Linked DNA regions of Homo sapiens. The protein of the gene in region 3 interacts with the protein of the main gene of each other region in a pairwise test. Each region holds a gene or a part of one and is shown on either strand. Other genes may lie near its edges.

Region 1 (7,165 bases), on a different chromosome or scaffold from region 3:
TTCCATTGTAAGCCAACTAAATAAAGATCACTGGAAAGAGTGAGTGCCCAACAATTTTTTTCTTAAATTCTCCAGGCGATTCTACTGTGGCCAGGCCTAGGATTCACTCCTCTGGGACATTTCTCAGGCAGTGCATTCTCTGACTCGATAAATGAAGTTCAGCCAAGAATAATCAGTGGAAAGATTGCCTGAAGTCAATGTCATTCATTACTTTCCAGGCTACCATCTTTAATTAACCCAGGTTGGCAGAATAAAGGTGGAGTGCTAGGACAGGATTGTAATGCCCTAGCAGACTTACCGTTTCCAAATTTCCCTTCTGTACTCTCATGTACTTTATGATTAGTCAATTATATCTGTATTATTCCAACTACTATGATGCCGGAAAAACAGGTTGGCATTTTTGAAAAAGAGTTTTAGATTCCTATCATTTTAAAATGGAAAATTATCTGGTTCTTACTAACTTGCATTGACGAATTACGAAAAAGACGTTTTAAAACTAATCTGCAATCACTGTAAAAGATGAATATATTCCTATGGATACATGGAAATTGTATTTTATTTTAGAGAAAGGATCTCACTCTGTAGCCTAGGCTGGAGTACAGTGGATTGATCATAGCTCACTGCAGCCTTGAATTTCTGGGCTCAAACAATCCTTCTGCTTGGCCTCCCACAATCCTTCTGCTTGGCCTCCCAAAGTCCTGGAAGTATAGGCTTGAGCCACTGTACCTGCCCTGAAATTATTTTTTAAAAGGAAAACTATTATTAGTGATCCCTACTGATGGATCATTTGCATATGTAATTTGAGACACAGGTATCCACTTAGCTGTGATTACCTTTTATTAAAGTATTTATCCTCTGATTGATATATAGGCAAAAACCCTCTTTGGATTTTAGAAGAGCCTGACTTTACAAATTTATGTAAACTCAGGCTGGTTTTTAATTTATATTGGCTAAAGTATCTTCTAAATTTTGTACAATACACACATTTCTTTTAGTTGAAGACATCGAGTAAGTTTCACTAATATTTGTGGGTTTGTGTAATTATTATAAAAGTTGTATGTAAAATCTGCAAATACGCAAAAACTGGAAAATACACTGACAGCTAATGCTCTGAAAACACTTTATTACACAAATTACATTCAGATTCTGAAAATAGTGTTCTAACAGTGTAACCATCTAAAAATAAGACATCCCAAAAACACACCAACTGAAGAAAATTTAAAAAAGAATTTAAATAGAGACTTTTTTATTTCCTTCATTGCAATATAATGTTAGTGATTTTAAAAAAATAGGAGATTTAGCAGCTTTGTCGTCATGTAGCACAAAGTTTCTCTTTACTGCCACAGGCTAAGAATGCTGAACAGGAAAGGCACCAAAGAAAGACACTGGCAATGAAAGTGCTATTGGGAAAATACTGTGTTCAAGCAAAGAATGGGGTTATTTACATCCACCAAAAAGTCTCAAAAGTGTAAATGGGCAAATCTTCCATTGTTAGATTAGAATTATGATGGAAAAAGAGGACGGTTTCTCTAGTCTATGTTCATATAAAGACAATGGCACTGTTATGAACTTTTAGGAAACTCCTCAACTAGAAACAGAAGCCAACTTAACCAAAACGAAGTAAATAAAGTGTGTACAGTCCCACACAGACTAGTACAGTTTACAATTAAATACACAGAACTTTAAACGTGCTAAAGGGAAAGGAATCTGACATTCTGGGTAAATCTTACTCAATCTAAATCAAAGCTTGGTTTTCAGGAGGAGGAAGGTGCGAGCGCAGGCAGAGGTGCTGAATACTCCTCTTCTGATTCACTTCCATCATCCTCTTTCTCTTGGTCACTGCCCTCAGTGCTAAGCCGGTCAAACCCTTTTCGACTGTAGCCCTTACGGCTTGCAAAGAAATTACCAAGGTTTAAGCCTCCACTTCCCTTTCCTGAAAAAAAGCAAACAATAACAGAATTGGGTAAAGTTTGCAGCAATGTCTGTTACCTTGTAAATTCTTAAATGATAAAGTCAGAAGGTGGGGATGGGAAAGGGGAGATTATTTTATTTAAAAATAAAATAGAAAAACAGACAGAGACGTATCCTACAGAGCCATATAGATGCTACTATTAAAGAAGAAAAACAAAAGCTCCCAAGTATTATGTATTTCTGCAGGAATATTTCATATTCACTTTCACCTCCTGCTTTTCTCTAGCTCTCTATCCAGAACTAGCCTCCCTGGAGCAGCTCCTCATTTCAATGACTTTAAGAAAAGGTCATCTTTACTATGACAAACATTGACATGCCAACAGGAGTGACAGAAAATTTGCTGAAGACAAATGAAGCCAGGTAAAAGGCAGGGGAAGAGAATTAGATAATGCAGAATGGGAAAAATAAAACTGGGAAATCTGCTGCCAGACCCATGCACTTCAGTTTAGTTTATGGTGTGCATTCTGTATTTACTCTGGGAGATGCTAAGCTGCATACAAGGTGCTTTATCTTCAGAGACAAAATATGAAATATCTCCTTGCTTTTTAAAAGACATGTGCTTGTTGACTTTGAACCAAACATGAAGGGTTCTAAAAGGTCATAGGCATACCTCTAAATCTTCCCAGTACTCTTCCTGAACTCGTCTCGAGTTTGTGTTCAGAATCTGCTAAAAAAAGATGGCACATTTCAAAATGAGTCCCAGTCATCTTTCTCAACCCATGCACTCAACTTCCAACTTAAAATAGGAACTGGTAAATGATAAAGCAAGGCCTGGCTCTTGTCTGTATGCAATTCTAATTTTTAAGAAAGGCGGTATATTTCTGAGACATACATAAAGGGCCCAAGCTGGGTTTGACTCCTGCCCGTGTCTCTTACTGGCTGTGCAGTCTTGATAAATTACTTCTCTGAGCTTCAGTTTTCTCCTCTGACAAAAGAAAGGTCAAGGAGAATCCCTGTCTGTAAGGCTGAGATCAGACACTGCATGTGACACATTTAGAACACTACCTATAGATATACAGTAAATGCTCAATAAATCATAGCTATTTTTTTAATCAGGAAATGTTATTAATAATTTATAAAATTTTTCCATCTTTGGTTATGACAATTTAGGGATATTTGCCTTCAGCTTTACTCTTTCTACTGACAGTACGTATCTTGCTTGAGAAAGCTTTGGATCCATGTATATCGTTTCTTCTTTATGTAAGACATAAGTGAAGGGAAAGCACATGACACCCTGAGTATTTTCCAAGCATAGTAGGTGACCTAAATGTTCCCAACAGGACTGCCTATCTCCATAAAGGACAGACTCTCTTTCCTTATGGGGAGACAGAACTCCCAATGGGTTTCATTTTTTCCCTTGCTGTGTCTCTCCCTGTACTATTTCCCAGGCTTCATCACTCCCTCAAGGGCTATGGTCAGGAAAGTCAGGCCTGGGGTTGTCCTGTTAGGTCTTTAACCAGGACTGAAGTCAGCATCATGGAAAAAGATAGCGCAGATGAGAGGAAAGGGAGAAGACAGTGATGTGGAAAGAAATAGGCAAGAAGGGAAGAAGAATCTGGTAAGACTGTTAGAAAGCCAACAAATTAGATTGTAAGTTCTGCAAGGACATTCCTTAGTTTTGTATCCCCATGTGCCTAGCACAGTGTCTGATATGGAGTCAATACATAATAAGGAATGATGAATAAATGGAAGGTCCATTAGGGTTTTTAATAACCTTAGACTGGATAAGATCTATCAAGAACAAATTCAGAAAAAAAGTGAGAAGCTGATCTACTACTACTACATATGAAACTGCAATTTTTCTAAGTAAAACACGGTCAAATAATGGCAATTTTCTAGGGTTCTACCTGGGTCTCTACCTTCCTAACACATTCCTGTAAAGTCAGCATCATGTAACAGTGCTGTGTCACATGTGCTTAACAACAAACAGGAGAGACCAAATCTTCCTTATTCCCTAGCCACTGCTTCTGCCAGATTGGGTTGGTTACCACAATTCCTGCCACCTTCCCCTAGGCCCCACTGTTCCTACTACTCTGTGTATTTATCACTGCACTTACCACCCTCTACTATAACTTTTTTGTTTCATGTCTCTTTCATATGTTATCTATTCTGTGAGCTCGGTTGATTTATTCATTCATTCTTTCAACAACAATTTATTAAACCACTAGTATCAGAAACTATTATTTGTGCTGGGGACATATCAGTACTCAAGATATGGATTCTTGCTCTTTTGAAGCATCTATATAACACCATGAAGACAATGACTATGTTTATTTCTCTTTGCCCCTACTTATGACAGTTCCAGATCTGTAACATGGACTTAATAGAAATCCTTTTTGGGAAGAGTTAACTATATTTTTATAGAGATTTATTGATGGCACATGAAAAGCAAAATAAAGTCTAATAAAAATTCCCTTTTACAACATATTAAACTGAATTTTCTGTTTTCTGTTTCCATGCCTTTTTCTGTGTCAGGGCTTTGCCAAGGGCACTGAATCCCTGCCATGGCTGCCTTGACCTGAAATAGGATCAGATGCTGTTTCTTGATCAAATGCTCCCCCTCTCCCTGATCCATGGATTTCTTCCCACACACAGCTATAGACTTGCTCTAGGACCTGGGGACCCAGCCAAGGGACTGCTACTGAGCGGTAAGAAACATGAATTGGGTTGTTTATTTATTTAGATGTCCTAAAATAAACTCAGCTCTTGGATCCTATATTGTGATAATGATTTCATAAAATACTAACTCTGGTATTGGACTCTGCCTTGTTCAGTTATGGAAGGCTGATGAGCTAAATTATGACTATTCAAAAACTATCAAATGGTTTGTTATAGAATTAATTTTTCTTGAAAACTAAGGTTTAAGACAAGTGTTTTTTATAACTTCTTATGCCTTTTGTTACTTTATTACCAATGATTATTCATCATAACCATTGGTGGTATTGAGTACTTCCTAGGTTCCAGGTATCCTGATAAATGCTTATGTACATTATTTCATCTTTGTACAACCTTGTAAGGTAACTATTTTATCCCCACTTTTTTATGAGAAAACTGGTCTGGAGAGATTAAGTAACTTGCCCATGGTCATGTAGCTAGGAGCCTAATGGGAGAAAAACACAACCTGAAAAACTGACCCAGGTACTTTGAGGACTGGGCCTCTTCCTAACAGCAGGTATCTCCTCCTCTGATCCTTCAGCTAATTTATACTGACTCTACTACCTACAATTTCGTATGGACTCATTAATTGGACTTAAGCCAATTGCTAAAAGATAGTATTAAAGGTTATATTTTAATCTAACTATCCAAATTTCAGAGTCTCCAGATACTATTTTGTACTGTGATATTAACTAGGGGCAATATTTGGAACATAGACAATAATGTCAAAAATGGTAGAGAGCATTAAAAACAAAAAAACAAATACAGTGAAAAAAATCCCAATCAAACTCCTGAGGATAATTAGGCCAAACACTCTTTCAAAGGCAGGTTCCAAGTTCACGGGGCTCATTTTACTTGCCTCCAAAGGCCCTTGATTTTTTCCACCGAATAAATATGGCAATGGCCAGCAGGACAACCACCGGAATAACCAGAAGGGTTGTAATGAGAACAACAGGCACTCCCGAGCCTGGCTCTTTGATCAGTTTCTGTTTCTCTTGCATCTTCTGCAATTCTGAGGAGGTGGGTTTGTTCTCCATTTTGGTTTCAACAACTGCCTCGGCTTCTTCAGGGAAAGAAGAGTTCACAATATTCAACTGACTCAAAGATTTCAAAACCCCCTTACCCACCCCTACCCAGTCAAATCAATAACTGTTCACAAAGAACTTGTTGACTCCAGTGTACAGGGGTTTCATGTTTTAATACCTGAATCTACCAAACTGGCAGCAGGCATTGTGATTAGTTATTTCCACTGAATGGTTTTTCACCTTCAAATTAGTTTTCTTTTGTTCTACTTTTAATATGCTCTTTAGCTATAATTCCACAGAATATATATCCTTTTGTATTTTTCCAAAGGTAAAATTAATAAGACAGTACTGTGTAGGGGAAAGAACTGGTGTGCATACTGGAATCAAACAAACCTGGGTACAAATCCCAATTCTCCTATATACTAGCCGTATAACTTTGGGCAAGTTACTTAAATTATCTGGGCCACAGTAACTTCATCTATAAAACTGTAATAATAGGACCTCCTTCATAAAACTGTTGGGTGTAAATGTCTGTCATAAAAAATGTATATAATAAGTGTTTGTTTCCTTGTATCTTTAGTTTAAAAATATTTTTCATGTTCAATTAATTTTTGGTATTTCACATGGACAGCTGCACACATTAATGCTAGGATTACAAAAGAAAAAAGGAACTATGTGCTTTTCAGGCTCTTTTATATTGTTTTCAGCAAAATGTGAGTACAGACAGATGAACTGTATATCCTTTTGTTACTGATGAAAAGAACAACTATTATAATAACTAAAACTATTCTGTAACATTGGCAGGTACTGGGTAGGTATCAAGCCTAAAGTACTGTTTGGGAAATTGATGCAATGAAACTATATAAGCTGCTGCAGTGATCTTAATAACTAATGATATGAAAATGAGGTTGAGCCTTGAGACATCCTTGCCCTACAAGAAGCACATATGTGTATTTGTATAGAAACTCTAGTGTACAAAGACTAGTAAGAATTTGCCCAGACTAAAAGTTACAACCACATTTGCAGGAAGACTCACAGGTCATACATTTCTGAAATTTCGACTTCTTGGAATGCCCTTCTGCCCTACGATACAGAATGCATTGTAAAGCCTCAAGAAGATTTTGACAAAATGGTAGGGATAACACAATCAGGAAAATCTTTGGTTAATGTTTAGTAGGTATAGATTCAGCTTAGTAGTTTACTGGATACTCCTCCAAATAAATGTTTCCCAAATCATTTAAGATGCTGTCAACATAATTTATAATACAAACAGATGGTAGGTTCCAACTCTTTGCTTCAACGTTCTGAGCCAGCCTCTTTGACAGTCTCAGTGATATCTATTGAGTACTTACACCATTGTCAGGCATCGTTTCCTTTAATCATCACACCAAGCTCATGAGTAGGCACTATTATTATCATCACCATTTTGTAGATGACCTCATAGTCCTCCTTTCCTTCCCTGTACTATGGCTAAAGGGAGACCATCCTTTGTTTTCTTTTGTCCACTCAAGTGA
Region 2 (8,253 bases), on a different chromosome or scaffold from region 3:
TGTCAACCTAATGACTAAATCTGAATTACCAATCTTGGATTGACCACATGGCAGTATACTCTGAGAAAGTGGCGTTTTTTTGTTTTTTGTTTTTTGGCAGGGTCTCACTCTGTTGCCCAGGCTAGAGTGCAGTGATACGATCTCAACTCACTGCAACCTTGCCTCCTGGGCTCCAGCGATCCTCCCGCCTCAGCCTCCTGAGTAGCTAGGAGTACAGGCAGGTGCCAGCACACCTGGATAATTTTTATATTTTTTGTACAGGTGTGGTTTCACCATGTTGCCCAGGCTAGTCTCGAACTCCTGGACTCAAGTGATACACATGCCTCAGTCTCCCAAAGTGCTGGGATTACAAGCATGAGCCACTGCACTGGCCTATTTTCTATTCTTAAAACAGACGTCAAGTCCTTAAAACCAAAAACTGGGAGTGACCTTGAAAAGCTTAATGTCTGCTCAGAGCAGTTTTTGTAATAAAATATATACATATATATATATATATATATATATATATATATATACACATACATGTATATATATATTTTTTTTTAGACGGAGTCTCACTCTGTCGCCCAGGCTGGAGTGCAGTGGCGTGATCTCGGCTCACTGCAAGCTCCACCTCCTGGGTTCACGCCATTCTCCTGCCTCAGCCTCCTGAGTAGCTGGGACCACAGGCGCCTGCCATCACGCCCGGCTAATATTTTCTATTTTTTAGTAGAGATGGCGTTTCACCGTGCTAGCCAGGATGGTCTCGATCTCCTGACCTCGTGATCCGCCCACCTTGGCCTCCCAAAGTTTTGTAATATTTAATGATAACAGGCAGTCATAGTTTACACTGCTGCCCTAAGTCTGTCAGCCTATTTTGGAGAAGGCTGATTTCTGATGAGGACCCTGACAAGGATCACTATAATCACATTTACTACAAGGTAAACAAGACTTCACTCAGTCACCTTCCAGTTGTCTCCTCCAGCCGTATCTCATGTCAAGCTCCCTCACCAACACCAATTACAGGTCCTGGACAGGGTCCATTTGAAAGCTCAAAAAGTTCCCTTTCCCAGGAGTGCACTCTCCTCTCCCACTCCCAACCCTACCATCTAATATCATACAGATCTCGGCTGGGCGCGGTGGCTCACGCCTGTAATCCCAGCACTTTGGGAAGCCGAGGCAGGTGGATCACAAGGTCATGAGCTCCAGACCAGCCTGGCCAACATGGTGAAACCACATCTCTACTAAAAATACAAAAATTAGCCGGGTGTGGTGGCACGCGCCTGTAGCCCCAGCTACTCGGGAGGCTGAGGCAGAAGAATCGCTTGAACCTGAGAGGCGGAGGTTGTGATGAGCCCAGATCGCGTCACTGCACTCCAGCCTGTCAAAAAAATAAAAAATATAAAAAACAAATCATACAGATCTCTGAGTCCAAAGCAAATGCCTCGTCCTCTATGAAGTCTTTCTGAATCAGAAGTCTCCACTCCCTGACCACCCACCTCTATCATTCATCTTATAACACTGCCACATTCTGCCATGAAATTATTGTGTTCTCCCTACCACATTCATAAGTCCTTTAAGGAACTCTAAAGAAGACCATATTTTACTCTTACTCTCTGGGCACAGAACTCAGGACTTGGCACATATTATAGATCCAATTATATTCAGAGCTTGGAAATAAAGAAACTGCCATCGTTTTATAATTAAGTAGTTGGGAGACAGGTAATTTAGTAAGCAAGTTGCAAAGGCCAGGATGACCTGGGATCCTCCGGTTCCCAGAATATGGCACAATAGACACAGTGATTCTTAACATGATTAGAGTTGACATATTGACATATTCTTTTTTTTTTTTTTTTTTTTTTTTTTGAGACGGAGTCTCGCTCTGTTGCCCAGGCTGGAGTGCAGTGGTGCAATTTCGGCTCACTGCAAGCTCCGCCTCCCCGGTTCATGCCATTCTCCTGCCTCAGCCTCCCGACTAGCTGGGACTACAAGCATCCACCACCTCGCCCGGCTAATTTTTTGTATTTTTAGCAGAGATGGGGTTTCACCATATTAGCCAGGATGGTCTCGATCTCTTGACCTCGTGATCTGCCTGCCTCGGCCTCCAAAAGAGCTGGGATTACAGGCGTGAGCCACCGCGCCTGGCCTTTTTTTTTTTGAGATGGAGTCTTGCTCTGTCGCCAGGCTGGATTGCAGTGGTGCGATCTTGACTCACTGCAACCTCCGCCTCCAGGGTCAAGCAATTCTCCTGCCTCAGCCTCCCGAGTAGCTGGGACTACAATCACAAACCACCACGCCCAGCTAATTTTTGTATTTCTCTTCTTTTTAAGAGACAGGCTTTCACTATGTTGGCCAGGATGATCTTGATCTCGACCTTGTGGTCCGCCCGCCTCGGCCTCCCAAAGTGCTGGGATTACAGGCGTGAACCACCGTGCCTGGCCGACATATTATTTATTGATGGCTGTTTGGTTATTTATTAGTTCCTTTCACTTCTTTTTTTTTTTTTTTTTTTTGAGATGGGGTCTTGCTCTGTTGCCCAGGCTGGAGTGCAGTGATGCTATCTGGGTTCACAGCAACATCCGCCTCCCAGGTTCAAGTGACTCTCCTGCCTCAGCCTCCCCAGTAGCTGGGATTACAGGCACCCGCCACCACACGCGACTAATTTTTGTACTTTTGTAGAGATTGGGTTTCACCATATTGGCCAGACTGGTCTCGAACTGACCTCAGGTGATCCACCCACCTCAGCCTCCCAAAGTGCTGGGATTACAGACGTGAGCCACAGCACCCGGCCTTCACTCCCTCTTTATTAGTTCCTTTTCACATCTGCACTTTGGAGTGAAAAAACAGTGAGGCAGACACAGTGGCTCACACCTGTAATCCCAATACTTTGGGAGGCGAGGCGGGCAGATCACCTGAGGTCAGGAGTTTGAGAACAGCCTGGCCAACGTGATAAAATTCTGTCTCTACTAAAAATACCAAAATTAGCTGGGTGTGGTGGCACATGCCTGTAGTCCCATCTACTCAGGAGGCTGGGGCTGGAGAATCCCTTGAGCCTGGGAGGCGGAGTTTGCAGTGAGCTGAGATCAAGCCCCTGCACTCCAGCCTGGGTGACAGAGCTAGACTCCGTGTCAAAAAAAAAAAAAAAAGGCGGGCACGGTGGCTTACACCTGTAATCCTAGCATTTTGGAAGGCTGAAGGGGGTGGATTGCCTTAGCTCAGGAGTTCGAGACAAGCCTGGGCAACACGGTGGAACCTCGTCTCTATTAAAATACAAAAAATTAGCCAGGTGTGGCGGCGTGCGCCTGTAATCCCAGCTACTTGGGAGGCTGAGGCAGGAGAATTGCCAGAACCCGGGAGGCTGAGGTTGCAGTGAGCCAAGATCACGCCTTTGCACTCCAGCCTGGGCGACAGAGCGAGACTCTGTCTCTTAAAAAAAAAAAAAAAGGTGAGGTGGATGTGGATGTATTAATCATTTCTTAAAAATCAAAATTATCGGCCAGGCAGGGTGGCTCACACCTGTAATCCCAGCACTTTGGGAGGCCAAGGCGGGTGGATCACCTGAGGTCAGGAGTTTGAAACCAGCCTGGCCAACATGGTGAAACCCCATCTCTACTAACAATACAAAAAGTAGCCAAGCATAGTGGCGCACGCCTGTAGTCCCAGCTACCTGGGAGGCTGAGACAGGAGAATCGCTTGAACCCGGGAGGCAGAGGTTGCAGTGAGCCAAGATCGCACCACTGCACTCTAGCCTGGGCGACGAAAAAGCAAGAGTCCGTCTCAAAAAAAAAAAAAATCAAAATTATTTAAGATTGAGTCTTGGTAAACAATTAGGGTTAGACTTATTTATTTATATATTTCCTTTGTTCTCAACCCTCAGGAAACAGTTAAGATGGAAAAACATTGAGAAATTATGCATCTAATTTGTTTGCTTCCAAAATTTTCTTGTAAAGAAATTTTCCAAGGAAGGCATAGTTACACATGGAACAATAACGACACTGCACACGAGCTCCTGAAAGAGATGGCAGTCTCCAGGATTCGAGTGTATGGTGCTGTTCTGCCTCCTATCACAGGAGTCACTGCATTTCTAAAATCCTTTACCTGCTACAGAAATTAAATCACATTTGGGAACAGCCCTTTATGATAAGAAAATCTCCATCATAATATCGCAAAGGTTCCATCTGAGCAAGTCCCCCTGCTTGGGCCCAGCTTGCTGATTTGATCCTGCCAATCCAGAGAGACAGTTCAGCAAGGCCCTGCTGAAATTAACCAACCTAAAAGGCCCTCTTTGTCACCCCAGTGAAGTAGAACGAGTCAATTCTATACCAAGTGCTTTGGTCAGGCAATAATGGACTTTTCTTTCCTGCAGTAGATCAGCTGACGTCAGTAGGTGGGAGGTCTGCCAAGCCACAACAGGCTGTCTCTGGGGAGCTGGGTATCTGAAAGTCACCAATGTGCTCCCACTGCAGTCAGCATTCAGAATTTTCATTTGTGCAATTACAGGAGACACCAAAAAACATTATGGGTTAGTGAGAGTTTCCCCCCTCTTAACCTGACAGGGAGCTGTCTCTTGTTTATCTACACGAGTTCCAGTTTCTTTTTGCTCCTAAAAGGGTCATTTCTGCAGACTACATTAAACACAGGAAAATTCTCATAAATATCATTAAGAATTCCTGCCATCCAAAGGTGCTACAGCCTCTCACCCGAAACTGTCAGTTACTGAAATGTCAGCTCAGCTCGGCCTGGGCGTGCCACATTCCTTCCACAACCGAGGCTGCATGCTGCAAGCACCCCACCCCTTCCCTGGCATATGCAGCAGACTGATAAGGCCGACTTCACAGAGAACGTTCCAGGCTGTTCCCAGCCATATGGGATTAACGCCTTTTGAGAGCACCAGAAAGGAAAAATCTGGGAAACGTGCCATTAAAAAACAAACTCCAATCTTACCAGCCTATCTATCAGTTCCACTAACTGCCTAAAAACCACAACAGAGACGACTTCCTAGGAATGCAATCAACTGACTGCTTATCTCAAAGGAGCCAACTGTCTCTGATTTTGCCAATCAAGTCTGTTCACATAGAGACTGAAGGAGGGGAAATGAAGTGCTAAGTATATTCTCTATATGTTTAAGGACAACTTCCCATTTAAGGTAACTTAAAAAAAAAGGTATATATTTGCAAAATATTATTAGAGGAGACTGAAGACGTAGGCTATTTATAAATGCTGCAACGCAGCAGTCAAACGTTAGCTGCATCATTCAGCAAGTAATGCGAATCTCAGGGGGATAAAGCAGGAATTACAACTATGTCCTCTATTGTAATAAATAAAATGAATAAAATGAACTTGTCAGCATTCTTACAATACTACCAGATCTCGGAAGAAGAGTGGGGTCTGAATATATGAATCTTGGCTAGAAATTTCTAATATACAGCTGGGCGCGGTGGCTCACGCCTGTAATCCCAGCACTTTGGGAGGCTGAGGCAGATGGATCACGAGGTCAGGAGATTGAGACCATCCTGGCTAACACGGTGAAACCCCGTCTCTACTAAAAATACAAAAAATTAGCCGGGCGTGGTGGCGGGCACCTGTAGTCCCAGCTATTCGGGAGGCTGAGGCAGGAGAATGGCGTGAACCTGGGAGGCGGAGCTTGCAGTGAGCCGAGATCGCGCCACTGCACTCCAGCCTGGGCGACAGAGCGAGACTCCGTCTCAAAAAAAAAAAAAAAAAAAAAAGAAATTTCTAATTTAATCCAAAGATACAGCATGCTTCAGAATGATCCAGGATATCAAACACAAACTTATACACAGTATCAACTGAAAATGGATTCCTACAAAATAGATTAGACATGAATATCTTTGTCTTATTGATGAACGCCAAGAGACAGCTGTTTGAGGCAGTTCTTGGTATTTGGGGAATTTTCATTCCCCAAATAAAAATTTGGGGGTATTTGGGGGCATAAAATTTGGGAGTATAAAAATAAAAAAAATTGGGGGGTATTTATGGGATATATAGCTCTATCTTCTTGTACAGGCAGAGGCAGTGGGTGGGAATCCCACTGCGTTAAGCAACACAAAAGACTGCAGATACAAACATTTTCGAACCAAAGGTCAAATGCTCTGGACTCTGTAAACCTGGCACCTGCAGTGAGTGCAGTCAGTTTCTCTATGGAATCCCAAAAGAGAGAAAAAAATTATAGTGAAGCTGAAAGGAGTCTCTATTAAAAACAAAGCATTGGGATTGCCATTCTTTCAGCAAGTTGAATGCACTGGATGTAAGAGACATTTGGAATACTACAAAATGAATTCTGATTCTCAGGCAGGACACCACTAGACATACAGTTTTGCAAGAAAGGGATTTTTAGGGACTAACAGGATGAACGGGTCGTTTGGTCATTTGGTTATGGAAAAATTCATAAACATCACCCAAAGCAAAAGATCATAGAAACCATTCATCAGTTGCTTTTGTTGCTTAGTCAGAACCCAAATGTGCAGAACCAACAATGTCTTTTTTCCGTGGCTTAGGATGCCAGCCTATTACCAAATTTCAGATTTGCAAAGCAAGAGAACTATATCCATGGATGTGGAAGGGCTTCCCTAAGAACAAACCACCAAAGAATTGATTAGCACTCATAAAATTGTATACCAGTTGATTCTCAGATCAAACAAAATTAACTCAAAACCAGCTTAGCTGCAGATTTTAGTGGCAGATTTGATGGTAAGCAGAGAGGTCAATAATACATAAAGGATGACTGAACACCATAAATAAAAACAACAAATATTTTTGCTTAAACCACATTCCAATCAGGATTGTGGATCAGCATGTCAGCCTTCAAACTGATTAATTCATTTCAACTTGTTAGCGCAATTTTGCAGAGGTGAGCAGGGACTTAGCTTTAAGAAAGCAAAAGATTCATACTGCATTGCATCAAAATCCAGAAATGCAGAGCAATATTGAGAAAACTTACTTCTGATTGCTTCCCAAATACTATCTTGCTGCTACTTACCTTTTAACCTGCAAAATTCAGATGAGAGGTATTTAAGTTCCTTATTGTTACTATGACTCAAAACAGGAAATGGTTATAATGTGGCCCATTTTTATAAACCTCATTTAAGTAAATAACTCATCTGATTTATAAAAAGGCCTGCCTTGGATTTATCACCTATAAACACTAGAAATTTCCAATGTTTATATTTTTTATTTTGGGATATCAAGATACTAAATTTTTTTTTTGTGAAAAAGGTCCGACTTAGAAAACAAAGACTGTACACAAAGAAAACATATAAAGAGAGCTGTTTTTTAATTTTTTTTTTTGAGACAGAGTCTCGCACTGTCACCTGGGCTGGAGTGCAATGGTGCAATCTCGGCTCATTGCAACCTCCAACTCCTCGGTTAAAGCGATTCTCCTGCCTCAGCTTCCCAAGTAGCTGGGATTACAGGGGCCCACCACAACACCCGGCTAATTTTTTGTATTTTTAGTAGAGATGGGGTTTCACTATGTTGGCCAGGCTGGTCTTGAACTCCTGACCAAGTGATCCACCCACCTTAGCCTCCCAAAGCGCTGGGATTACAGGCATGAGCCACCGCACCCAGCCCGAGAGCTATTTTTTAAACATGAAAAGGTAAGCTCTATTATAGAAATTGTGGTGGAAGAAGTCAATGCAACAGGAAACAAACCCAAGTTTACAATATTTGTCAAATTTTAAAAACACAATTTTTACTATGTATTTTCAGATTATTTTCTCCAAATATCTAGGATAATATGTTTAGTCCCTTGGTTCTTAAAAACCAAGTAGCCACCAATAAAAAGTCAGCAAACACTACATGCAAACACCAGAATGGTGGTAAGAAATTAATATATTCATGCCTTAAAGAGAAAGAGAGGGAGGTTAAAAAAAAAAAAAAAAAAAAAAAGGCTTTGCAAATTTTCAAGTAAATTTACTAATACTTCTGATAATTTAACACCAAAAAACCCCAAACAAATCCTAACCAATTTGTTTAACAGAAACGTCATGCAGGCAGGGTTTTTTTCCCCCTTTCTTTGGATCATTCAACCTCTTTGACACGAATATGCCTTCACTGCAAGCCAGGCAAAACCAAAAAGGCAACCCGTTTTCTGCATGCTCGTCAAATACCTGGACTCTGCGTTTACGAAACGATGACAACATGATGGAGGAATGTGGAGTCTAAAGAGGGAGGGGGAAGAGCAAGATAACAAGCTTCTAAGGGCAAACGGAACAAAATCATGAAGAAAACAGATTATTTAAAAAATATGAATAC
Region 3 (8,324 bases):
CAATAAAATTACTGTAACACACTTTCTCAGGCTTGGAACAGAGAATTCCCAAGAAGACAATCTGGAGTCTACCAATCTAGAATAGTAGGCTGGGTAGGGTGGGATGTCTGTGTCCATGTGCACACAGGGAAGTGAGATTTAGGGAATCTAGCTTAACCAATTGGTCAAGGGATTGAAACACCAAAATGATCAGAAGAGGACAAACAAGGAACCAAAATGACAGAATAATTTGAAACATGCCTAATTAGAAGCACAGTATGCCAGAATTTTGACAAAGCAATTTCCAGTTTGGTCCTTGTGCATACAAAATTTTCCATCAGAAAGAAAGGGGTAACCCTGGTGCTAGGGACTTTGAAAATTTGTTTGAAGCTTTCTCAGTTGTTCAATAGAATACATTTATAATCTATCCAGCCTATCAGGTATAGTGCTATATTCCACAGAGATGGGAAATCAGAAGGGAGAAGGTTTAGAAACATGGCTTTTCTAAGCTTAAGAATCTCCACCAACGCATATGCATATGTTCATTGCAGCACTGTTCACAATAGCAAAGACATGGAATCAACCTAAATGCCCATCAATGGCAGACTAGATAAAGAAAATGTGGTACATGTACATCATGGAATACTATGCAGCCATAAAAAAGAATAAGATCATGCCCTTTGCAGCAACATGGATGGAGGTGGAGGCTGTTATCTTAAGCAAACTAACGCAGGAACAAAAAACCAAATACTTCATGTTCTCACTTATAAGTGAGAGTTAAACAATGAAAACACATGGACACAAAGAGAGGAATAACAAACACCGGAGCCTACTTGAGGGTGGAAGGTGGGAGGACAGAGAAAATCAGAAAAAATACCTATCAGGTACTATGCTTATTACCAAGGTGATGAAATAATCTGTATACGAAACCCCTGTGACACACAGTTTATCTATATAACCCATACATGTACCCCTGAACCTAAAATAAAAATTAACAACAAAAAATAAAAATAAAAAGAAGAAGAAGAATCCCCAGCAAGAGCCTAGGCTAGAGACCAGAAGTGTGGTGACAGTCAGTGAGCCAAGCATAGAGGGCCACACAGGGTGGATGTAGTCCTTGACCTACCCCCTCTTGCAACATGTTACAGGTCATCAGTCATTTCCAGCCTCATGCACCAATGACTTAACCTTTCTCTGATACTAAGTGCACATCAGACTTAGCTCAGCCACTGGGCTGCCCAAGGAGGAGGGAGAATATCCCCAACATAGGAATCCCACAGGAGACTGACCCCAGTCTGCTATTTATTCTGTGATTTGAGCCAGGGTTAGATAATGTGTGCCACACCTTGTGTTTTGAAAGGCCCTGGGAAAAGTAACACATTGGACTATTATTGGCCATTAACACTGTGTGAATTTATTATCAGAAATAAGCAAGCCTCCAGGAACTGAGCTCTGCTACGGGTGCCTGGAACAGAAAATGAACAGGACCTAGTGTTTGGATGATAGGAAAGGGGAAAGAGGAGTGGGCACCAAAAGGTAAAAGTGGAGTCCAGAAAGGGAAGGTGGGAAGGCTCACACTTCAAGATTTTTCCCTCAGAGCTAAGAAAATGCAGACTTTTGCCCCAGTTGGGAGGCAAGGGGGGTCAGCTGGGTTTTTGATTGACTGGTCAATTTGTTTCTAGTCCCAGTTATGAATTCCCATATCTCCCCTCCTCTGCCTCATAATGAGTATTTCTGAATATCACTTAGCCCCCAGAACCACCTTTTCCCTAGATTCCACCTCTTTAGAATCCATGCTTTTGGGTGCTGGGCTGTGTGTGTATGAGAGAGAGAGAGAGAAGAAAGAAAATAGAATCCATGTCTCGGAAGAGGAAGGAGGGAAGGAAGGAGGAAGAAAGAAAAGGAAAGAAGGCTTAGACCTGGGAAGCAGAATAGAATGACAGGGCTCCCTCTGATTTCCCCAGACCCTGGCACCAGCTCCTGTCCTCCAGTTTTTTCCTCTGCACATCAACTAGAGAATGAACATATGAGCCAATCAAGTCTTGACTTCCAAAGCCACAAGTCTCCCCCGCAAAGCACCCCACCCCCTTCCCTAGAGATGACCTCCAGGGCAAGGTAACAGGGTTAGGAAACAGATGGATGTGCAGAGACCCTCCAGAGCTAACCTGACCCCTGACCCCCACCAGTTCATGTCCTCTAATCCAACTTTCCAGAAGGGAGAGCAGATGCATGGGGCCCCGGTAACTTACTGGACTCCTTGGGACAAAGATTCCAGACAAAACTGTTTCAGACATGTGGGGAGATGGGGAGCTACACACAGAAGCTGGTGGAAGCCACAGGTACAGGGAGACGGGGAATCCCTGGCCATCAGAGAAACAGGGCCACAGGTGGTGGAAGATAAGGGTGGTCAGTGCCGGTTCTAGGGAGGGACTGTGTAGCCAGGGAGCAGGAGGAGCAATGGACCCGGGACTTGGACGATGGCAGGGGCGCAAAGAGCTAGAAAGACATCTCAGGGCTCTACACCTCACAGCAAGCAGAGACTTAGTGGGTGTGTATGAGAGGGACGCTAACTCACACTTCCAGGAATGAGTAATTCTTATGAATAGCTCCTCCGTTCCCAGAACTGAAGAGGAGGACAAGGGGGAGGTCCGAGGCGCCCACCGCCCTCCCAGCTGGGTCTGCCTCTCAAGTCAGAGGGACCAGCTCCCCACACGCACCAGGCGAGACCGATGTCTTCCGCCCCACTCCTGTCAGTCTGCAGCCGGCGCGGCTCCGGGTCCCCGCCGCCCCTCTGTGCACATCAGGGCCCCGGGCCCCCGACGGCGAGGAGGGGTGCCGACCCAGGGCGGCCGCCGGGAGCCCCGCTGACAGGCACAGGGGAGGGGGAGCCAAGGGAGGGGCCGGGACGCCGGTAGCCGGAGCGGCGCGCTGCAAAGTGAGCCAACACCGCCCATCCCCGCGCTCTGGGAGAAGGCGGTCCGAGGGGACCGCCTCCCACCTCCCCAACACAGACTCCCGCAACTGGGGTGAAGGCGGAGGGGCGCGGAGTTCCCAGCCCCCACGCCCTCCCCAGACGCAGCCAGCACTGCCATAACAACCAGAATCTCGGCAACTCCAGCCCCGACGCCGAGGGGGCACTGCCCCCCAACACGCACGCGGCAGCAACAGCCCTCCTTCCCCAAACTTGTCCGAGACGCCGCGTCCGAGGCAGTAGCCTTCAGCCCTGGCCCCCCGCGCCCTGCCCGGCTTACCTGTCCGGAAAAAGGCGTCCACGTCCGAGTCTGCTGCTCCTCCTTCCTCCGCTGCTCCCTCAGGGGGGTTCATGACTGTGGGAGGGCGTCCGCGGGCAGCCGGGAGCCGAAGAAGCCTGGGGCCGAGGGCTGCTCGGCGCCCGGTGGGCGGAGGGCGCGGGGCGCAGCTGCTGCGGCCGCAGAGCTGGCGGCCGCGGAGCTTCGAGGGCGGGCGTTGGGCGGCGGGGCTGGGGCAGAGGACGCTGAGCCTCCCTCAGGCGGAGGCGCGCGGCGGGCTGGGGGTGCCTGCCGCCAGCTCCCCCATGGTACCCCTTCCCCAGGGCGCTGGCCGCCTGCTGTCTGGCTGGGGCCGGGGCCCGGGGCCGGGGTGCGGGCTGCCTGGGCGCCCGCTGTCCCCCAGCAGCGGCAGCTGGCTCTCCTGCTCGCCCGTCTGCCTGTCTCTATTGTTCAGCCCTGCTCCGCTCTCTCCTCTTTATTTTTCCTCCTCCCTCCCACCCTCCCTGTCTCCCTACCTCCTCCCTCCCTCGCTCACTCGCTCACTCGCTACCTCCCTCCTTCGCTCGCTCGCTCTCTAGCTCCCCCTCTGGCTCCCGCCGCCGCCGCCGCCGCAGCAGCCGCCTCCCCAGCTCCTCCCCCGGCTCCCGCTCCCTCAGTCCCGGCCAACAATGACCCCGGGAGCGCCGAGCTGAATTGAAGCTCCGGCCGGGGCCGAGGGCTCGCTGCGGGCCCCCGGCGGCGCCTACGCCCCCAGTCCCAGCGGCCCCGCGCCGGCCTCCCGGGGAGCGGAGCCCGAGTCCCGAGCTATTGTTCGAGGCTGTGCTAGGCCGGCTTCCTGAGCTCCGCAGGAAAAGCCCGGGCCAGGGAGGGGGCGGGGCCGCCGGGCGAGCCCGGGGCTGCAGGGCACACGCCAGGCTTGTCCAGGGGGCTCTGCGGCCCGGGCGCTGCGCGCTCAGCTTCTCCGCTCGCGCCGCCGGTGCTCCTCCCGGCCCCGCGGCCACCTCCTCCGTCCACTCCACTCCCAGGTGTGTGAGGGGACCACCAGGCTGCCCGCCCGCCTTCTCTGGATCTTCAGATCGGTCTCCAAGCTGGACTGACCTGTCCCTAGAGGCCGGCCTTTCTTCCCCTCCTTCCTGACGAGCTCTCTTCTGTCTCCCTGCCCTCCTGAGCCTCTCACATTTTCCTCACCAGCTCGCCACAGTTTCTCTCCTTTTTATCTTTTCTCGTCCTTTTCCCCTTTTCAGCGCCCCTTTAAACATCTCCGCCTGTCTCTGTGACTCTTTGTCCAGTTTAATGCTCCTGTGATGTCTCCCTGCCTATCTCTCCCTCCCTCCGTCACTCTCTTGTCCCTCGTTTGTCTCTGTCCTGCCTCCGTACTTGGCCCGTATCTCCGCGCTCCTCTTGGACAGCTGTCAAAACTCTCTAATCCCTGGGGCCTTCTCGGTTTTGTTCTCCCTCATGTGAATGGAGAGATCCAGTTGGCCAGGAGGAAGGAGGTGTTACAGCAAGCTGAATTTCAATTAAAGTGGGGAGAGGGGCTGGGGAGGAATGGGGATGGCTGCAAAAAAGAAAACAGATGCTGTATGGGGTAATTAATGCGGTGATTGTATTGTGCCCATCAGTTTTTAAGCAATAATTAAACAATAATTAGCCAGTAGTGTGTTTATGGTTCTAGTGACTACAGAGCCCACCAAACAGAGGGTCTTTAAGACCTGAGTACTTAATAAGGTCTGCTGAGCGCTGTTCGCTGTTGCCTCATCCAGACAGATGGAGAAGTGGTGGCCTGACCTAATGTGTTAAAACACGCCTAATAGGAAAACCAGGTACTGGTCTGAAGTTAATGACTGCAACCCATCAGACAGAATCTCCTGGATCTGTTTGTCTCTAGTAACCTGTTTGGTTCCACCTCTCTCTGGGGGCCAAGGCAACTGGGGCCTATGCAGATCCACCAACTGTGTAAACTTGTAGCAAATAAAATGAATTAAATTAGTTTTTAGTGAACACTTTCTGGCTCCCTGTACGCATCACGTTCTTCACTGACACAAACAGTCTAATTTTTTTTCACCCATTAAAAAAAAGTACCTGTTTCCAACCTTGGATACACCTATCAGACCTGTCTCCAACCTTGAGTACATCTATCAGACCTCTGTAGTGACTCTGACATCACAAGTTCACTGCCCTGAGATCTAATTCATCTGGCCCTAGTATCTTGAACTGGCTTAAGATGCCCCTTTGCCTATGCCTTTTCTGACAATGAAAATACTTCTCATTTGTCTTTTCAAAATCTTCCTTCCCCTTAATCCTTTGCCTAACCCCTGGTCTGCTCCCCTACCCCCGCACACACATATGTGATGGCAGAGCTGCTATTAATTAATTGCCACCATTGTGCAGCTAAAGAACCAGTGGCCTGGCAAGGCATTAGCTCATCACAATTCAGAAGAAACATTACATGTTTAGAGGAAGGGTCATATCAAAATCTCAAGATATAGACAAGAAAGGGGGAACACCTTATGTAATGACACAAACTTTTTTTGAGAGGAAATTTGGCAACTTCTATTAAAATGTTAAGTGTTCATGGCTATATTAATATCAAAGAAGACTTCAAAGCAAAGAATATTACCAGGGATAAAGAGGAACATTTCAATTCATCAAGCAGACGTAACAATCCTAAGAGTGTTTGCACCTAATAAGATAGCTTCAAAGTACATGAAGCAAAACTGATAGGATTGCAAGGAGAAATATAAAAATTTATAATTATAGTCAGATAATTTAATATCTGTAAAATGCAGTAATTAATAGAATAAGGAGACAGATCATCAGTAAAGATATGGAAGACTTGAACAATGTTATCAACCAACCTAACCTAACTGACATTTATAGAATATTCCACTCCATAACAGCAGATACACATTTTTTCAAATGCACAGGTAGCATTTGTCAAGATAAACCATACACTAAGCCATAAAACAAATCTCAATAAATTTAAAAGGATTAAAATCATGCAAAGAGGTACATAAATTATACCTAAGTTGGTTTTTAAAAAAAAATCAGAGTATGTTCTCTGACCACAATAGAATTAAACTAGAAATCAATAACAAAAAGAATCTAGAAAAACCTCCCAAATATTTGGAAAGTAAATAACACACTTCTAAATAACACATGAGCTACTAAGAATTCAAAGGATGGGCTGGGCACCATGGCTCATGCCTATAATTCTAACACTTTGTGAGGCTGAGGCCAGGGGATCACCTGAGGCCAGGAGTTCAAGACCAGACTGACCAACAGGGCAAAACCCATCTCTACTAAAAATACAAAAATTAGCCGGACATGGTAGCGTTTGCCTGCAATCCCAGCTACTCTGGTGGCTGAGGCATGAGAATCACTTGAACCCAGGAAGCAGAGGTTGCAGTGAGCCAAGATTGTGCCACTGCACTTTAGCCTGGGTGACACAGTGAGACTTTGTCCCCTGCCACCCCCACCAAAAAAAGAATTAAAAGGGGGATATTAGAAAGAATCTCAAAGTGAATAAAAATGAAAACACATTACATAAAAATCTGTGGGATGCAGCTAAGGCAGTCTAAATCTGTGGGATGCAGCTGAAGCAGAAAGACATTTATAGTGCTAAATACCTATTTTGAAAATAAAGATCTCCCATCAATAAGCTCCTATTCTACTGTAAGAGCAAACGAAATCAAAGTGGAAGAACAGAAATAAAAAAGATCAGAGCAGAAGGCAATAAAATAGCAGGAAAACAAAAGAAAAAAATCAATGAAACTAAAGTGGGTTCTTTAAGATCAATAAAATAAAAAAACCTCCACCCAGACTGATCAGAAAATAAGAGAAAAATCTCAAATTACTGCTAGCAGGAATGACAGAGGTAACATCACTACAAATTCTATAAATGTAAAAATAATAATAAGGGAATATTATGAACAACTTTATGCCAACAAATTTGACAACTTTCATAAGATGGACACAAACTACTAAAGTTCACTCAAGGAGAAATTGCTAACTTAAATAGCTATTTATCTACTATAGAAATTAAATTTGTAGCTTAAAAGCTTTCCCCACACACACCCACACACAAAACAACTCAAGATTCACATGGGTTTTTTGGTAAATTTATGAAACATTTAAGGAAGAAATAATATCAATTCCACAAAAACTCTTCCAGAAAAGTGAAAAGGAGGAAATATTTCCCAACTACTTCTATGAGGCCAGCATTACTCTGATGCCAAAACTAAACAAAGGCCATATAAGAAAAAAAATGTAGACTACTTCCTTAGGAATATTTATTAGGAATAAAATTTTTAATAAAATTTTAGCAAATAAAATCTACAATATATAAAAAGGATAATACATCATAACCAAGTGGGTTTATCCCACATATACAAGGTTGGTTTCACATTTGGAAAACTATTCAATGTAACTTACCACATGATATGGGTTGAATTGTATTCTCAAAAAAGGTATGTTAAAGTCCTAACCCCTGGTAGCTGTGAAAGTGGCCTTATTTGGAAATAAGGTGTTTGCAGATATAATCAAATTTGGAATGTGGTCACTAGGATGGACCCTAATCCAATATGACTGGTGTCCCGATAAGAAGAAAAAAAAATTCCATATGAAGACAGAGAAGACAGAGACACATAGGGAAAAATGCCATGTAATGGCAGAGGCAGAGATTGGAGTGACGCAGCAGCAAAGAATACCAAGAATTGACAGCCACCACCAGAAGCTAGAAAGAGGTAAAGAAAGATTCTCCCCAGAGTCTCAGAGGGAGCATGGCCATTCTAACACTTGATTTCAGACTTCTTCTCTTCAGAACTGTGACAGAATAAATGTCTATTATTTTAAGCTACCCAGTTTGCACTACTTCGTTACAGCAACCCTAGGAAACCAATATACCATATTTAAAAAGCAATACAAGTCCGAGTATGGTGGCTTACGCCCGTAATCCTAGCACTTTGGGAGACCAAGGTGGGCAAATCCCTTGATCCCAGGAGACTGAAACCAGCCTGGGCGACATGGCATAACCCATCTCTACAAAAAATACAAAAAGTAGCCGGACATGGTGGCATGAAAGTCAGATCATGTCTC
Region 4 (7,000 bases), on a different chromosome or scaffold from region 3:
ACACACAGACAGAGAGAACTAGGCCGGTTCACTCCTGAGATAAAGCAAGAATGGATCTCTCTGGCTGAAATAAAGATTCTTCTGATAAATTAAGACTAGAGTGGGAATGTGGGCCTGAAAAATACCTAGGCTTGCCTAATTTTGCCTATGGGACCCCACTGCAAGAAGGAAAGGAACTAAAGTGTTCATCTCTCAGCTATGACTCCAAATCTTGGCCCCAAAATTTGCTTGACCACCAAATGGCTCCTCTCAGGTAGCAGGGATGCACAGAGTAGTATGACTTTGGAAGTCAGTGGCAGTCATTGGGTTGGAGTTGGGGCCAAATGTTATTGCCTCTACATGGCCCTATCAGCATATCCCTGGGGAAAAGAGTGAGGCGATGGATCCCGGTTCCAGGAATACATTGGAATTCCATTTTAGTTAAAAGAAATTGTTATTTTTTTCTGATAAAGGAAAAATAGGGACAATAAATATAACATTTTTAACATTTTAAAGAATGTCTGCTCTGTGAGGGCTCTGTTTGCTGTTTATTTTTCTAAATTGTTCACAGCTTGATAGCAAAAATCTAAATTTCTTTTCAATGCCCTTTAAAATTAGATTCAACTCTATTCCTTTGAGCAGCATCCCCAGTGTGATTCAACTGTAGAGGATCACTTGGTTTATAACAAGCAGATTTATCTTTACTTTATCTTACAAAAGACAAGTTGTTTTTAAGTTATTGTAACTCCAAGGAAATGTTTGCAATTACTTGTCTTAAAATGCCAGTGAAACATTCATTTCCCAGAGTTTAAGTCCATCTGAGATCTTTAGGGCACAAAGTGAGCAGTGATTCCAGTTACTGATAGGCAAAAGGGCATAACCCCTGGCCACCACCAGTAACACCCACTTTGACCACAGTTGCACAGTTGCCTGAGGGGTTAGGAAACGCCTAATCCTAGCACCAGCATTAGCATAGAGTCCTTAAAAATCATAAAGCAATAAACACCATTAGTGTGGGTTTTACTGCCAAGGTATTAGCCACACTGGGAACTTCATACTGAGAGCCAAGAGCTGGTATCAAATATTTTGCATAGATCTTAAGGTTGTTCAGCAGCCACTTCAAAGAGACTGGTCTGCTTCGCCAGTAGTGAGATGACATCTACTATAGTAATGGTCATCTGCTGTGCCCATTAGAGAGTCAGAGTTTAGGGTATCATTCCCCCACCCCTAACACACACAAACACACATTTCTGTCCTTATTGCCAGGACATCATACTAAACAGAAAAAGGAACAAAGATGTGGAAGACATTGGGAAGTAAAGGTGAGGCCCTGGCTGAAACCTGCTCCCAACCAGAGCATATCCTCAGCCCCACTAAAAAGCATTTCCAGAATCCTGATGGGAAAATGCAGCCAGTGCAACAAGACCCTGGTGCTGCTGAACAAATGTCTCCTTGCCATCATTTCTCTATATATTATCAAATAACCATATTTTAATCTTGCTTTCATTTTTTGACCTTAAAATGTTAACATTATTTTTAACTCATATGCTTGATTCTTGAAAGGATAATGATAAACCTACTCAATCATGTGGGTGTTGTTACCAAACTATGTAATATATGTTGAGTGCATCCTTCCAGAGACAGACAAATCTCACCAATGCAACAGTTCAGAAAAGTTTGTTAAAGCTGTTAATGAAAAAGTATTTAGTAAAGTAGTTGGTGCTTAACACTATAGACATTTGAGTTTTTGCTCAGAAACTGTAGTTTCATGTTTTTTATTTTTGTTTTGTTTTGTTTTGTTTTTGAGAAAGGGTTTTACTCTGTCACCCAGGCTGGAGTGCAGTGGTGCGATCTTGGCTCACTGCAACCTCCACCTCCCAGGCTCAGGCAATTTTCCTGCCTCAGCCTCCTGAGTAGCTAGGATTACAGGCGTATGCCACTACCACCCAGCTAATTTTTGTCTTTTTAGTAGAGACGAGGTTTCACCCTGTTGGCCAGGCTGGTTTTGAACTCCTGACCTCAGATGATCCACCTGCCTCAGCCTCCCAAAGTGTTGGGATTACAAGTGTGAGCCACTGCAACCAGCCTGTAGTTTCATGTTCTAAGCCCTGAACGGAAGTATAATTTTCTGTTTGCCTTTCTAACCTGCTGGCATCAGGCTGCATGCCCAATGAGCAAAAGTTGAAAGACAACAGCCAGGTGCCTGAAGTTGGGTGATTGCCTCTGCTCCAGAAACCCTTAGAGCAGCACTGACCCTCCCAGCTCCCATGCTTCCCCAGGTACTCTGTGCTCTCCCACAGTGTACCCCCAGGTGCTCCGTGGTTCCTCCCCACCAATGCTTCCCCAAGTGTTCTGTCTGTGTCCCCACCCAACCCCGCCAACTCTTTCTCTCTCTCTCACTCTCTCTCTCTTTCCTGCCTCCTCATGCTTCCTTAGGTGTTCTGTGTTCTCTGTCCTGCCCACACCCACCTCAGCCTCGCCTGTAGTTTCAAAGTATTTTCAGAAAGAAAACCCTCATTTTATACCATGACTTGGAGAAGAAGAGGAGGCTCTAAACTTGAACTATTTCTTCACATGAATTAAGCGACAGTTCCTTCTTTCAAATGTGCCAGGTTTTGGGGTTTCTATTGACCATTGCACAGTAGAATTACAGGGAATTGTTGCCAATAAGGCAGAGTCTTGTGTATAAAGAAAAAATGTCCATGTTATGAGAAGCCAGAATGATCACATCTTCCCAGTGTCTAAGCACAATTTAGCAAAGTCTTTATAGAGGCTGGCAGAGTTCCCAAGATGGATGCACAAATGGGGTGTCTTTTCATAAGCTCCTTACACTGGGAAAAGGAGAAAGCAGATTGCACCACAAGAAGACAGTGAAACAGTTTAGTTAGTGTCAAAGTATGATATGTTGAGACATAAAAAAGGCAGGGAAGACCCTCGTACTCTCTTAAATCACTATTCCAGGGAGGCAGGAAATGAATGTGTGGAGTTTGTGAACACCCATGAACCAACAGTAGGAAGACAACAGGAAGAGAACTGCCTTGGACACCAAAATCTTCCCACCAGACCATTTGCTTTCAACAAGCCGCTCCTGATTTAAGGATAGTCAGAAAACCTAAGGACAACTCACTTCTCCACCCCCACCCTCCTTTCCTTATTCCCCAGAGATCCAGTTTTGAATTGTGTGACCTCAAAGCACATACATGTTCTATTAATGTCATATTTGCACCACACGTCTGCCACCACTAGAGGCATCTTTGTACTTTAAAAGAACAGAGCCTGCCTGTATCTCTTAAGGCTGGAGTTTCAAAGAAGCAATAGGTTAGTTGAGTTTAAAAATACCAAATAGAGACTTTACACAGCCACTTTCCAGTGCCTTCATCAAGTATCCTTCCCCCGGCCAGTCACTGGTGCTCTTCGTTCCCACGCTGAGGACAGCGCGGATGGACAATCTTCCTAATGCCACATCCCTGGATGGCCGGGCCACTCTGCAAATATTTTCAGCTCTAAGCCACACATTTTGCTCTGCCAGGATAAGGCCTGATTCCTTCACTCAGGGAGATCATAATCAAGAGAGAATGAAAATAGGATTCAAGTAAAACATGGCAAGCTCTGTGAAAAAGGCCTAAGAGCTTCATGAAAATAGTAATCCCCAATAGCACCTTTGTACTCCACGTGTACTCCCAGTGTCTTGCTTGGTGCCTGGTGCATGATAGAGACTTCATAGATATTTGGAGAGAGGTGAAGCTAGAGAGAGGAAAAGTGGAAGAAGAGAGAAAAATATGAATAAAAAAAGGACTGAGCCTGTCTTCCCACAGCGGGGAAAAATGGTGTGTTCTTTATCAATATTGGCCTTCTGGTCACAAGTCCACCTACCCACAGTGAGTTTCCATTTGGGCACTTCAAATACAAGTTTTCATGCCTTGAACCAAAATCCATTTCTTAGTAGATGAGACTTATAGATGTGCTCTCAGTCAAAACTCTGAGGGAGATCACAGAAAATAGCAAGGTTTCCCTGTTTTGGTTATCAGCGGAAATGTCGTGCGTGCCGTGGACCATTCTACATGGATGCTGTAAGTTGCAGTCTGGTCACCATGGACTGTGGAAATCTGCAATCCATGCCTAGAAGAGTCAGCAAGTTAGAACACTTGAAAAACTGTTATTTAAATTTAAGCTTTTTTTCTTTCCAATTTTGGTCACTCAGAATGTGATTTCATATCCAAAAATGAAATAGAGGAGTAGCAAATTATCTGAATAATTCATGCCAGAATTACCCAAACACTTTCGTTCTTTGAATACTGTTAATTTGGGACTAGGTAATTGAAGGGTTCAGGGAGGATTGAATTATCCTGATATTTTTCAGATAAATGCCTCAAGTTAATATTTTACTTGGTACAGACTTAGCTCTAATCATAAGGGGTTTTGTCCTGCAGAAAGAGTGCTCATTTTAGTGTTTTTGACCACAGCACCTCTTATATTAAAGCAGAAATGCCCATCAAAGTCTAAACTTTATTATCTTTAGACTATGACCAAAACCTTCTTTTAAGTGTTCTATTTTAATTTATTGTTAAAGTGATATAGATACTTATAAGAGTAATACTAGCATTATAATAAAGACTGGATGTGCCCTGTGCCAAACCCACCCCCTTCCCTAGCCTCACTCTTTTGAATCGACCATTCACTTTTCCTTCAGGTGTTTTCTCTAGTATTCTCTATTTCTAAGTAACATGCTCATACAGATTTTCAGTTTCAAATAGTATCCCTGTTATCTACTGGCATTCTACTATAGAAAATCAAAATGATAGCACTTATAAACACTTATAAAGCACGTACAGTATCCCAGAGAATATTTCAGGTGCTTTACACATATGTACTATTTTAATCTTCTCAATGACACTATGTGGCAGATACTTTTTTTTTTTTTTAAGAAACAGGGTCTTGCTCAGTCACCTAGGCTGCAGTGCAGTCGTGTGATCTTGGCTCACAGCATCCTCTAACTTCTGGGCTCAAGAGATCCTCCCACTTCAGCCTCCTGAGCAGCTAGAACTACCAGCATGTGCCACCCCACCCAGCCAAGCAGATACTATTATTATCCTAATTTTGCGTATTGGAAACTGAGACATAGAATGATTACATATCTTGCCCAAGATTACATAGTAATGATGGCAATAAATTGTGGAGCCAGGATTTGAACTCAGTCTGGCTCCTAAATCCGTATTTTTAACAATGATCCAAATGTGTCTAGCTCCATTTTAGCATCCAACAATCCAACACTGCACCTGTTCTCTCTTGTTCTGTCTCTCTCTTTCCCTCTCTTTCCTATCTCTCACACACGCACCTACACACATGCACACATTCCTGCTTCCTCTTCCTCCCACCCCCATGAATATAGTTGTATCACTCTCAAGAGCTAAATCAGTATTCAGTGTTAATTATCATTATGGTTATTTAAATATTAATCACAAGGACTCATTATGTTGTCCTATGTTATATTTTCTTTCTCATACAATTTTATGTTTGCCATGGAAATAATTTTGGTTTCTTAATTTACAATGCGTTTCTAAACACTCTGCTGAAGACCAAACCATCTTTTAGCACCCTCAGACAGCTCAGGTGTTTGTCAGTTACTCTCTGTTCATGGAGACCCCTCCTCCTGCCCCCATCTTCACTGCTGCCTCCTGGCACTGCCACACAGCTATCATCCTGGAGTCTCTCATGCACATCATCCTGGGAATTCCTTGTGCTTCTCTCCTGTTTAGACTCTGTTTCCTGAACCTGTCTTTTCCTTTCTATTTTGTTTATTCTCATGCTTCAGTCATATATCTTCCCACCCAAGGAAGGTAAACAGTTGCTAATTTTTTTGAGACCCTGACAGTCTGAAAATATCTTCAATTTACCAGATTGAGTGTTTGACTCAGTATAGGATTCTAGGTGGGAAATTATTCTCTTTCAGAATCTTGAACACATCATTTCATTTTCTTTTGCTTCTAATGTGTCTGTTGAGAAGCCCTATTCTTCTCTGCCAATGGCTTGGAAGATTTTATGATTTCTTCTTTATCTCCAATATTTTGATTTTTTGATGCTTTGCCATGATGTGGGTCTGTTTTCATTCCTGGGCTGTGGGCACTCAGCAAGCTTTTTCAATCTGGAACCCTCAGTACTTCAGTTCTGGGAAATGTTTTGTACAATTTCTTTGAAAATTTTCTCTTCTCCAATTTCTCTGTTCCCTCTTTTGAAAATCCTCTTATTCTAATGTTAGACACACTGGACTGATCCTCAGATTTTCTAATGATTCTTCTCTATTTTTCCATACTTTGACTTTTTCTAGTTTGAATCTCTAATATATCTACTGAAACTTGCCTTTCAATCTTGCTATTGAATTTTTTATTTCTGTTATAATAATATTAATTTCCAACATCACTTTACTGGTCTTCTCTTTGTTCCTTTTTTATAGCTGTTTTTTTTTTTTTTTCTTTTTCTTTTTGAGACAGAGTCTTGCTCTGTCACCCAGGCTGGAATGCAATGGTGTGATCTTGGCTCACTGCAACCTCTGCCTCCTGGGTTCAAGTGATTCTTATGCCTCAGCCTCCATAACTGGGACTACAGCCACCACACCTGGCTAATTTTTGTATTTTTGGTAGAGACAGGGTTTCGCCATGTTGGCCAAGCTGGTCTCGAACTCCTGACCTCAACTGATCTACCTGCCTCAGCCTCCCAAAATGTTGGGATTACAGGCATGAGCCACCATGCCCGGCTTTTATAGAGTTTTATGTGCAAATCTTATTTAAATTTTTGCAGTCAAATACAAATGCGTATCTTTATCTTCCTTTTTACAATAAAGGTGTCGCACTGTACACACAGTTTTGTTTCTTGCTTTTTTTTATCTGACACGTTGGAGGACTTTATGTGTTAGTATATAGAGAGCTTCTTCATTCTTTAACATAGTTGCTATCATCTTCAGAAGTACACGGTGCTTCTAATTCCTGCATCTGGTAGTGCAAATCAGTTAGTTGGATTCCCTGAC

Evidence for each region.
Region 1: the proteins of KALRN (region 3) and PAM interact in a two-hybrid assay, tested with the Homo sapiens proteins (one study listed by BioGRID).
Region 2: the proteins of KALRN (region 3) and SPTAN1 interact in a two-hybrid assay, tested with the Homo sapiens proteins (one study listed by BioGRID).
Region 4: the proteins of KALRN (region 3) and SNCAIP interact in binary tests that used the Homo sapiens proteins (3 or more experiments, as listed by UniProt).

Annotation. Positions count from the first base shown.
Region 1 is NC_000005.10:103,023,655-103,030,819, reverse strand, and holds the end of PAM (peptidyl-glycine alpha-amidating monooxygenase isoform e preproprotein), read right to left. Parts: intron 5,690-7,165; coding exon 5,486-5,689; intron 2,639-5,485; coding exon of another isoform or gene 2,636-2,638; coding exon 2,582-2,635; intron 1,934-2,581; coding exon 1,755-1,933; 3' UTR 1,104-1,754; downstream 1-1,103. UniProt on the Homo sapiens protein: Bifunctional enzyme that catalyzes amidation of the C-terminus of proteins. Alpha-amidation is present at the C-terminus of many endocrine hormones and neuropeptides and is required for their activity.
Region 2 is NC_000009.12:128,555,255-128,563,507, reverse strand, and holds part of SPTAN1 (spectrin alpha chain, non-erythrocytic 1), read right to left. Parts: intron 8,160-8,253; exon of another isoform or gene 8,142-8,159; coding exon of another isoform or gene 8,109-8,141; intron 1-8,108. UniProt on the Homo sapiens protein: Fodrin, which seems to be involved in secretion, interacts with calmodulin in a calcium-dependent manner and is thus candidate for the calcium-dependent movement of the cytoskeleton at the membrane.
Region 3 is NC_000003.12:124,028,720-124,037,043, reverse strand, and holds the start of KALRN (kalirin), read right to left. Parts: upstream 3,676-8,324; 5' UTR 3,304-3,675; coding exon 3,231-3,303; intron 1-3,230. UniProt on the Homo sapiens protein: Promotes the exchange of GDP by GTP. Activates specific Rho GTPase family members, thereby inducing various signaling mechanisms that regulate neuronal shape, growth, and plasticity, through their effects on the actin cytoskeleton.
Region 4 is NC_000005.10:122,455,237-122,462,236, forward strand, and holds part of SNCAIP (synphilin-1), read left to right. Parts: exon of another isoform or gene 1-1,245; coding exon of another isoform or gene 1,246-1,299; exon of another isoform or gene 1,300-4,098; intron 4,099-7,000. UniProt on the Homo sapiens protein: Isoform 2 inhibits the ubiquitin ligase activity of SIAH1 and inhibits proteasomal degradation of target proteins. Isoform 2 inhibits autoubiquitination and proteasomal degradation of SIAH1, and thereby increases cellular levels of SIAH.